4 separate regions of the Homo sapiens genome follow, and all the other regions are linked to region 2. Evidence: fine-mapped expression QTL. A gene starts in region 2. Each other region holds a variant in brackets. All regions are shown on one strand. Distances are from middle to middle. Region 1 overlaps RBP5 (retinol binding protein 5). Region 2 holds the start of C1R (complement C1r). Region 3 overlaps C1RL-AS1 (C1RL antisense RNA 1). Region 4 overlaps RBP5 (retinol binding protein 5).

Region 1 (2,706 bases), 30 kb before region 2:
GTCCATTTGACCTCTTCTTTTCCTTCTAAGAAAGAACTAAGCTTTGGGCATTTGGCGATTAGTGAAAATTCTATCCTGATGGACTTCTGGAAAACTGTGACTGGGGTTCAAGAGTTTAAACAGGGGCTACTGGCAGAGTCTTTTTGTCCATTTCTTTGTCCTTATCCTTGAGAAAGTCTCATGTGCTCAACAAAACCAGGCCCAAGACACAGCCCCCCACACACAGGGTTCAACGGACTCCACGGTTCTGACATCTGAAGGCATCTGGCCATTTGATACTTCCATCCTATGTGTTGGGAATGAGGGATGGAATGGGGTAAGACCTTTGTCCAGTGCTTGGGGAGGCGGGGAGCTTCTAAATGGTGACCTGTCCTCCGTGTCTGCTTTGGGAAGGGCAAGCAGCAAGAAAGCCAGAAAAAGCTGAAAAAGGAAGTAGACGGAGGATGTGAGGTCAAGGAATAAAAGACAGTAATACAGGGGTGTGAAGGCATAGGAGGGAGAAGCCCAGCAGTCCTGGCTATAGGGACCCTCTGCTCAAAGGCCAGCAAGGCTGGAGACCAGAGATAAAGAGGAGAGCTGAGGACAGCAAGGGTCCCAGAGTTGCTGCCTTGGAAAACAGCCCAGAAGGGTGGAGCTGGCTCAGGGTCAAGGCCAGCTCCAGCCTCTGGCCTCCTCTCCACCTCCAGGGGCCTTGGCTCTTTCAGAATAAAAGTCCTAGGGGGCCCAACTATCAGAGTGAAGAGGGCTCAATGTGAGGGTGGGAAAAGAGCCTGGGGGAAGGGTTGAGGGAGTTGGAAAGTCCCTGGCCCTCATCAGATGAAGACTCTTGACCCATCTTCCTGCAACGGCTGGCCCCCCCATGCACACAAGACAGTCACTAGGGCTCTGGCCAAGAACTAGGGGCTTGTGATACTGATCCTACCACATGCTCTGGAATGAATTTGGAATAGAAAAAAAAAAGGAACTCAGGGTTGAATGGAAAATCTTATTCCCTGCCCAATCTCTGCAGATGTCCACAGTAGAGTGGAAAGCCCCTTCTTTGCAAAGCCACCCAGCAGAAGCTCTGAGGGCTGCTGGAATCCACCTTGTCCCATTCCAAGGCACAGGAGGATGCTCCGTGTGTACTCGCCCATTGCCCACATCTCCAGATCAACACAGTGTCCTTGCTCTTGAGTTCACAGTGCATGTCCAAGCCTCTTCCCACAGGACGGTCCTCCATGCCCTTCAGTGACCATGCTGGTCAGTGGAGTCTCGGCAGAGGCCTTGACTCAGGAACTTG[T/A]AGGCCCCCATGGTGGGTTTTTCTAAATATTTCTATATATTTTTATTTTTCCCCCAAAGGTTGACACTTCTTACCATGGTGGTTTTAAGACCCAAGCTAAAGTGGGCTCAATCCCTCAAAACTCCCCGTGATGTGGGCGTCCAGAACATGGCCACTGCAGGACCCCATCCTCCACTCGACCACACTTCTCCAGGGGCCAGACCACACCCAAAGGCCTGGAGATCCCCTAAGGGAGCACAAGCATCAGGGGAGGACTATGCAGCTTCAGAGGCATTTCCAAGAGGGTGGGAGCTCGACCTGCAGAGGGGAGGGGACCGCTGTGGGAAGCTGGAGCTGCTGTTTCCCCTGCGGACACTAGAAGCCAGGGATTCTCCAAATTCAATCCTCCCTCCTCCACCACCTTCTCTGATATTCCATTCCCACCACACACACACACACATACACACACACACATATAAACACACACCCAATCCATGTCCTGGTCCTCACAAGACCATTACCCCTCATTCAAATCAGGTTCCATCTGTCCTCAGAGGGAAGAGATAATCACCAGAGGGACCAAGATGTGAGTGGAGAAAGGGCAGGGGAGGGGACGAGGGCCACAGACAGGTGGGTCCCACACCAGACCCTCCCAGGGACACACAAAGTTGTGGAGTTGACTTGGTTGGCCAGAGTCTTAAACTCCAGGGATGTGATCAGGAATCCAAAATGTTTATTTCCATATGGATGGAATAACTGTGCTCTCTAAGTCAGCCCAATGCAGGCCCCTGCCCCACTCCCACTCCACCAGGCCCAGATTCCAGCTGGAACTCCAGATGGTCCCTGAGAGTCTGCAAAGACCAAAGGTCAATTCAGAGCCCTGTCCCCAAAATAAACTGAGCAAAAGTGGATGGGGAGGATGGGTACAGGTGTGTGTCCTGTGAAGCAGAGGACCATGTGCTGCCCAAGGACTTGGGCTCCATCCCACTGGGGGGTCCCAAGAGGAGGCAGAGCAACAAGGTCTAGCCGTGTACCCCTCCCCACTGCCCACCTCTCCCCTCGGCCTCCACCTCCCACATGACCCTGACGCCTACGTGCCCAGGCCTATATGTTGAAAAGGAGCTCAGGTAGAAGCAGGAAGTGCCTCAGCTCTAAAGCACAAAGGCCATCCCGGGTCCAATCCTGTAACATGGTTGGACCACTTATTGGCAGCAGAGAACTCCTAGAGGCCACCACAGATCTCAAGATCCCAAGAGACAGCAGAGGCATGGCCATTTTGGTACCTTTCCCCCACCCTAATGTCACTCCCTAAGATGCAGGAACCCCATCTGGTCTAGCCTTAAGTACCCCAAGTAAGAGGCCTGGTATCCCCAGCATGCGGACGATGGAGATGAGGGTGGGAGCTGCCCCTTCCCTCCCCACCCCTCCAGCGGCTCCCTGCTCTTCCA
Region 2 (2,599 bases):
ACCTTCTGTGTGCCTGCTGTCTAACTACTGATGATGTGGTCACTGCCTGATGGGGAACTGCATCAGCTCTGTGAATTCTTGCAATCTATTGCCTGGGAAAGTGTCTTGCACATTAAACAGGTAGCCCATAAATGGATGAACGGGGGTGGGGGCAGAAGGGTGGAGGTTGGAGGGATTCATCTAATAAGGGAAACAAGCAGAACAGCCTACAAAGGCTTAAGAACGCAGAGTCCTGCTCTGCAGCCCAAGCCCCTCCGTGGGATGAAGTGCCATCAGATATTTGGTGCCATGGAGAGTTGATGAAGAAAGCCTTCCAAAAACAATGAAATTGTTTTTTAATTTATTTTAACTTTTAGAGACGAGATCTCACTATGTTGCCCAGGCTGGTTTCGAACTCCTGGGCTCAAGAGATCTTCCCACCCTGGCCTCGAAAAGTGCTGGCATCACAGGCATGAGCCACCACACGTGGCCAAGAGCAAAAGTTTTAAAGCAGGACACTATGGCCTGATGGACAGGAGAGACTAGGGTCCCTCCTCCCTCCCAGGGGCCTGGCTTCATCTCAGAAAAACCGAGTCCCTCTTGCTCCACACCCGCATCCTTAGCTTCAGCCCTGGCAGTTGTGTTGAGCAGATGCTAAGGAGATGGGGACATTTTACCCCCTCCGCAGCCGCCCCAGAGGGTCTCAAACCCAGGGCTGATTTAGGGTTGCCCTGACATGGCCAACCCTATTCTATGTCCAAGTGTCATTCATGGCTAAAGCAGGCCAGGGCCCCAAGGCAACCAAGCTCCTCTCTCCTCTGCCCGCTCCCACACACCCTCCTCTGCCCCAGTGTTCCTATCATTACGTCCTGGGCATTGAAACCCGGGCCATTCTTGGACCAGGGCTGTGGGCTGAATGAGGGCAGGAAGAACAGGGTCAATGGGAAAGGACAGCCCAGAAAAGAGAATTCACCACCACCTGTGGTCTCCCACTGCTTTGGTAGGAACCTTGTAAACACAGCAGCAGCCCCCAGGAAAGTCTTGGAAGAAGGGAGAAGCTGATCAGATTTAGAGACTGAGACATCTGGGCCTCCAACCCAAGGCTCCCCGGGCCCTAAAAAGCCAGACTCCCGTCTCCTTAGCCCTTTCCCTCACCGACCAGCAGGTGGCACCACAAACAGGGATTTCAAAACCAAAACTAAATTAAAGTGGAAACTCAGATCTTTTGTTTATGCAAATAGTTCATTCCCTCCAACATTCCTCCGGGAATGGTCCCCCCTCCACTCCACAGAAAACCCTCCCCTCCCTGCTGTGCATGACGCGGGCTCCCTCTGCACACAGTGCACGAAGACGCTGTCGGGAGAGCCCAGGATTCAACACGGGCCTTGAGAAATGTGAGTAAGGGTGATGGGCAACCAGGTGGGAGGGAGAAGCCAGGGGAGAAGCCAGGGCATGGGAGGCAATTCAGGGAGACAGGAACACCCTTCTCTCTTCACACACCTCATCAGTTCCACTGTGCACACGCGTGGACACACACAACACACGCCCCATCCCTCCTCCTAGGGATCAGAGGAGACTTCATACATAGATGCTCATGCCATGGTCCTTTCTTCCCTCTGGGCTCTTGGCAGGGAGCAGCGAGAGGAGGGGACCCCTTGCCCAGGACGGGACACTCTGTGCCTGTGTCCCCCACTCCACAGATGGTTTCTCCCAGACGCTCTTGCTGAACCTGTGGGAGCCCTTTCAGAGACCCACGGGTGGAAACCCTCACCCTCCATTAACTGGTCCCAAGCCAGTCCTATTCCTGGAAGGGGAGGGGAGGGACGCGTCCGGGCAGGGGAGGAGGCTGGAAAGGGAGTGTGAGGGGAGTGTGGTGGCCTCTGGACTGGACACTGCCCTGGAGAGTGACCCGATGCAGCAGCTGCACAGGCCATCCTCCCCACCCACGCACCCCTGCTGAGAACATGTCTGTGAGGTTCAGGGTGGGCAGAGAGGAGAATGCCCAGTGGTATGGCCGTCTCATCCCCTGCCACAGCCACTGCCCACATGGCAAGAGTGCTGAACCCCTCCAGCTCCAGATACTCTCTTTTGTTTTGGCAGGTGGCTCTTGTACCTCCTGGTGCCGGCCCTGTTCTGCAGGGCAGGAGGCTCCATTCCCATCCCTCAGAAGTTATTTGGGGAGGTGACTTCCCCTCTGTTCCCCAAGCCTTACCCCAACAACTTTGAAACAACCACTGTGATCACAGTCCCCACGGGATACAGGGTGAAGCTCGTCTTCCAGCAGTTTGACCTGGAGCCTTCTGAAGGCTGCTTCTATGATTATGTCAAGGTAGGGGCAGGATGGGCGGGCAGAGGGGAGACAAAACTGGGCCCTCTGGGATCTGGGATCTGTATGGCATGCACACCCCCAGACACAGCCCAGCCCCACAAGAGCTGATGGCCAACGGCCTCTCTGAGAGCCCGGGGATGCCCTGGATGGGCGCTCACTGGTGTAGAGGCCCTCGGTGAGCACTGAGGGGAGAAGCACAGAGAAGGAAGGGGACAGGACCCACTCAGGAAATTCAACATCCACTGAGTCAGGAAAACCTTCCCCATCTGCTGTCTAGCTGAGAGTCTTTGG
Region 3 (2,706 bases), 22 kb before region 2:
TGAGGACCAGCCAGGCCCTCTCCAGGGCAGGATCCTTCTCCTTCTACTCACAGAGCTGCTCTCTACAACCAGGTACCAACAGTGAGGAGGCGGTCACGTGGCAATGATCAGGCTTCTCACTAGAGAATAGTAAATGGGGCAGGGCCGTGTTCAGACCCTCAAACTCTACCCAACCCCATCTCCCAGATGCACCTGTCTACCACCTGCTTCTCTTCCTCCCTGCACACCTTGAAAACTCCAAAACCTGGTGCATACTCCCCACTCTGCCCCATCCCAAGAACTCACCCACAGACGCAGGTGGACACCTAGATGTGCTGAGTCCTAGGGCTGCCACAGCCTGCAGGACAAAATTCCTCCCTCAAGGAACCCACAGCCCTGTGGGAAAGACAGACACACGGGCAGGAGGTTATCATGCATCAAGAGTCCATGAGCACAGGGAAAGTCATTTTCTCTGAGTCAAAGAGGGCTTCCCAGAGGAGAGGACACGGGGAGAGAGGTGAGTAAAAATGGCCGGCATCCAGGGCATGAGTACTACATGCCGAACGCTGACTCTTCTCAGGAACCCAAGCACAGGTTATTGTCCCCATTCTACAGATAAGAAAACTAAGGAACAGAGAATTTTAAGTAATTTGCCAAAGGTTATACATGAAATAAAAGACAGAGATGGGATTTGAACCCAAACAGATTGGAGCCTGACCACCCAACCCTCAGTTTCTCCACCTCGCCCCTATTGACGTTCAGGACCAGGTAACATTTTGTTGTGGGACCTGCTGCCTTGTGCACTAGGATGCTTACCAGCATCACTGGCCTGTATCCACTAAATGCCAGTAATGGAAAAAAGAAATCTCTAGATATCATCAAATATCCCCTGGGGAGCAAAACTGCTCCTTGTTGAGTACCACTGATCTAACCATTTTGCTATTCTATTCTGCTTCCTAAGCAAGTAATGATATTTATTGTTTGCCAAATGACAGACACTGCCCTAAGCAATTCTGGTTATTAACTCATTTAACCCTCACACCAACCCTCTGGTGTGGGTACCGTTGTCCTCATCCTTGTTCTTCAGATGAGGATGTTAAGAGGCACAGAGAAATTATGTAAGCTGGCCTTGGTCACCAAACTTTTAAATGGTAGAGCCTGGGTTTAAACCTGGTGAGTGTGGCACACAAGCCCACTCCTTTAAGCAGCATGTTATGCTGATGACTGAAGAACACGGCATTGGTCGGGGAGTCACACATGCAAACGCAAGGCATGTTTGTGAAGCCATAGCATCATGACCGCGCCTGGAACACACATGCGAGGCGGCAGCGGTGGAGAGCGAAGCCAGAAAGTCATGCAGAGCCTGATTATGAAGGAAGAACCTGACGAGACAAACAAGTGGCTGGGGCTTCATCTCATGGATCAGGAGGCACAGTCATTGAAAAGTTTTAACCTGGGAAGGGGCACGATTGATTGAGATTTTAGATACTGGCAGAGTAGGGAGGATGGGCTTAAGGGCTAAACCTAGTGGCTGACACTCCATTGGGGTTGAGCTAGCGACTGCCTAGGTGTCCATAAGGCATGGAAGTCAAGGCCCTGACATGAAAGCCTGAGATAACTTGGGGGTGGAGGAGTGTGACCCATTAGGGTCACCCCTCTGCCCTGGGCT[G/A]TCCACATCTCCACTGGCCATGCCAGACAGAAGCAAAGGGTCCCAGTCTGGCTGACTCAGCCGCCTCATCACCCCTGCTGCTCTTCACCTCGCTCCTGTATCTCCCTCCTCACCTGGCACTGGGCACAAAAGCCCCCACGTGTCCCAGCCCAGGGCAAGGTATCTAGAGATAAGACAGGGAAGCTGTGGACAGAAATGGCTCGTGCTGCCCCAGACTCCTCTGCCTGGGCTCTCCTGTGGCTGTTTGGATTCCAGGAGAGGGCAAGCTCCTCTCTAAATGCTGGGGGCTCATGAAGGCTGCAGAGAAACTCCCTGGCCAGGAAGCCCCAAGGCACTTTCTGTTGTCCTGCCCTTCCCCTTTCAGGACAGAAGGGGGCAGCACCAACACGATTTTCAAAAATAAAACCAAAAATAAAGTCACTGGAGCACCCCAACCTTGTTTGCCCAGCTAAGATTGGAAAGACCCATGCCTGGCCTAAGTTTATATGCAAGGACAAAAACTTCTTCATTAATCATGTGGATTAAAGATGCCGATTAAAGGATCCATCCCCTCATTCTCTAATCCTGTCTGGCTCAGAAAGGACCATCTGGTCACAATTATAATTTCAGATACATTTATTTTGTAACTATCAAAGTTATTAAATAATATTAAAGAAGTTTTACTAAACAGAGAAACATGGTTTAAATCATCCACAACCCCATACTCTAATAGGAAGCAGTTATTTTAGATTTTTCTCACGGGTGCTTTCTATATTTGTAAACATAGTATCCTTACAATTTGGTAGCTTGCTACCTTTACTTAGCATGCCAGGAATCCCAGCTCCCTTACCTGCACTTGGGGGCCTTAACATAGAGCAGAGGTGGCCTATGCTCTTTAGGGACACTTGGGTAAGGGAAAGGGAACTGAAGTAAATGATTGAAGTGTTAGCAATAAGGTGACCAACTGTCCTGGCGTGTCGGGGAACTTAACTGGTTTTAGTGTTGAAAACCTCATGTCCTAGGAAAACCTCATTTCTAGACAGACCAGGATGATTTCTAATAGGTTACCCTATTAGAAA
Region 4 (2,706 bases), 34 kb before region 2:
ACAGTATAGCAACTATTTACAGAGCATGTACATTGCATTAGGTATTATAAGTAATCTAGAGATGATTTAAAGCATATGGGAAAAGGCTGGGCGTGGTGGCTCACACCCATAATCCCAAGACTTTGGGAGGCTGAGGCAGGCAGATCACTTGAGGCCAGGAGTTCAAGACCAGCCTGGCCAACATGGTGAAACCTCATCTCTACTAAAAATACATAAATTAGGCCAGGTGCAGTGGCTCACACCTGTAATCCCAGTACTTTGGGAGGCCAAGGCGGGCGGATCACCTGAGGTCAAGAGTTCGAGACCAGCCTGACCAACATGGAGAAACCCCATCTCTACTAAAAATACAAAAAATTAGGCAGGCATGGTGGCGCATGCCTGTAATCCCAGCTACTCAGGAGGCTGAGGCAGAAGAATCACTTGAACCTGGGAGGCAGAGGTTGCAGTGAGCCAAGATCGCACCACTGCACTCCAGCCTGGGCAACAAGAGCGAAATTCTATCTCAAAAAAAAAAAAAAAAAAAAATACAAAAGTACAAAAATTAGCCGGGCATGGTGGCGCATGCCTGTAATCCCAGCTACTTGGGAGGCTGAGGCAGGAGAATTACTTGAACCCGGGAGCCAGAGGTTGCAGTGAGCCAAGATCATGCCATTGCATTCTAGTCTGGGTGACAGAGCAAGACTCTGTATCAAAATGATAATAATAAAGTACACAGGGGGATGTATGTAGTTTCTCTACAGATACTAAGCCATTTTATTCAGCAGATTTAGTGAGGTGGGGGTCCTGGAACCAATTTCCATTTGAATGCCAAGGTCAAATTCAAATTCACTGTCTTCCTATCCAAACCTACCCCACTTTTATATCTACTCTCTCCACTAATGGCAATAACCAGCCAGGCCAGAGACCTGGGAGTCATGGTCAATATCTCTTGTTTCCTTACCTCTAGGCTCCCAGCACACACACACACACACACACACACACACACACACACACACACACACACCACCACCACCACCACCACCACATCTAATCGGCCAAGAAATCTTTGTAGCTTTTCTGCATTACCCAGTATAGCAGCTGCTAACTTCAGATGGCCGTTGAATACTTGAAATATAACTAGTCCAAATCTAGATGCTGTAAGTGGACTTTCAGACAATGCCAAATAAAAAGAAGCATTTCGGAAATGTTTATATTGGCTGCATGCCGAAATAATAATATTTTGAATATTTTTGGTTAACTAAAATATATTATTTAAATTAATTTCCCCTATTTCTCTTTACTTTTCTAATATGGCTCCTGACCCATTTTATTTCTGTTGAGCATCACTCTTCTAAATGGCTCTCCTGTGTTCCCTCCTAACCTTTCTCTATCACCACCCTAATTCAGGCCTTCATTTCCTGGTGCCTGAAATTGCTTTTTTGTGTTTTTGTGTTTTTTTTTTTTT[G/TTG]GTAGAGGTGGGGTCTCACTGTGTTGCCCAGGCTGGTCTCAAACTCTTGACTTCAAGTGATTCTCCCGCCTCAGCCTCCCAAATGCTGAGATTACGGGCCTAAGCCACTGCACCCAGCTGGTTCTCACGCTTAACCCTCCTCTAATCTGCATGCTGTAGCCACAGGGTCTACTTAAAACATAAATGTGATCATGTCACTCTCTGACTTACACCCTTTCAGTGATGATCTATTACATTACATCATCTGTTACACTTAACTCAGCATACAAGGGTCTCTGTGAATCAACTCTTCAATTGCCTCCACCACATATACTCTAGGTTAGAGCCCTTCAGAACTAATTGCCTTTCTCTTTTACCGCTATTTCTAGCTGTTTCTTTCCTTGCTAGAAATTTCCCATTCTCTCCAATCTAATTAACTCCCAACTTCCTTAAAGATTTCACTCTGCCCGCCCCACTGCCATCCCTCACTCTTGCCTGGTGTCACAGTTACCTATTTACTGATCCTCTATCTCTTCAAGACTCTGAGCTCCTTGTTTGGGGCCTATCCTAAAGGAGAACTCAATAAAGGTTGATTGGAATGCTCAGGCCCAGAGGGGCTGACCCTTTATTTCTAAGGATACTTCAGCTGTTCTTGAAACCGAGAAAGAGGAGAAATGAGATTACCTGGTAGGATTCCCAACCAATCTCTCTTTTTTCTCAAAAGTCCCTCTAGGTCAGCCAGAAGTATCCAGAGGAAAAAGTCTCCATTCTTCATAAATGCCCTCCCCAATTTCACCTCTACTTATCCTGCTACCACCCCTGCTCTCCCCTAAAGGTCACTGTAGACAACTTTGGGCCCCCCTCGGTGACCTTTAGGAGTGGAAAGCTGGGTGTGATGGTTCATGCCTATAGTCACAGCACTTTAGGAAGCGGTGGCGGGCGGATCACTTGAGCTCAGGAGTTTAAGTCCAGCCTGGCCAACATGGAGAAACCCTGTCTCTACTAAAAATACAAAAATTAACCCGGTATGTTGGTGCACGCCTGTAATCCCAGCTACTCTGGTAGCTGAGGCATGAGATTCACTTGAACCCAGGAGGCAGAGGTTGCAGTGAGCCGAGATCCTGCCACTGCACTCCAGCCTGGGTGACAGAGCAAGAACTTGTCTCAAAAAAACACAAAAAACAAAGAGTAGGGTGGAAAGGGAGTCCTGCTGAATCAGAGCAGCTCCCTCGCTCAGTGGAGGGGCTGCAGCAGACAGTATCTGCTGTGGAGTAAAAGGGGGA

What was found. PIP is the estimated chance that this variant, and not a neighbour inherited with it, causes the effect.
Region 1: its variant is fine-mapped to the expression of C1R in whole blood (TOPMed, PIP above 0.99).
Region 3: its variant is fine-mapped to the expression of C1R in whole blood (TOPMed, PIP 0.98).
Region 4: its variant is fine-mapped to the expression of C1R in whole blood (INTERVAL, PIP above 0.99).

Annotation. Positions count from the first base shown.
Region 1 is chr12:7,121,115-7,123,820 of GRCh38, reverse strand. RBP5 (retinol binding protein 5) reads left to right here. Exons shown (of 4, transcript NM_031491.4): 4 at 1-135. C1RL-AS1 (C1RL antisense RNA 1) reads right to left here. Exons shown (of 12, transcript NR_026947.1): 12 at 1,970-2,109. Among named protein-coding and RNA genes, the nearest start is that of RBP5, 6.4 kb to the left of the region's middle. The variant T/A (reference allele first, on the strand shown) is at 1,280.
Region 2 is chr12:7,091,161-7,093,759 of GRCh38, reverse strand. It overlaps C1R (complement C1r), which reads left to right and starts at 1,315. Exons shown (of 11, transcript NM_001733.7): 1 at 1,315-1,373; 2 at 2,080-2,308. The coding sequence starts at 1,372. RefSeq lists an enhancer at 973-1,267.
Region 3 is chr12:7,112,799-7,115,504 of GRCh38, reverse strand. C1RL-AS1 (C1RL antisense RNA 1) reads right to left here. Exons shown (of 12, transcript NR_026947.1): 7 at 286-375; 8 at 1-119. Among named protein-coding and RNA genes, the nearest start is that of C1RL, 4.9 kb to the right of the region's middle. RefSeq lists an enhancer at 1,737-2,238. The variant G/A (reference allele first, on the strand shown) is at 1,649.
Region 4 is chr12:7,124,808-7,127,513 of GRCh38, reverse strand. The region is part of intron 2 of RBP5 (retinol binding protein 5); the gene reads left to right. Among named protein-coding and RNA genes, the nearest start is that of RBP5, 2.7 kb to the left of the region's middle. The variant G/TTG (reference allele first, on the strand shown) is at 1,445.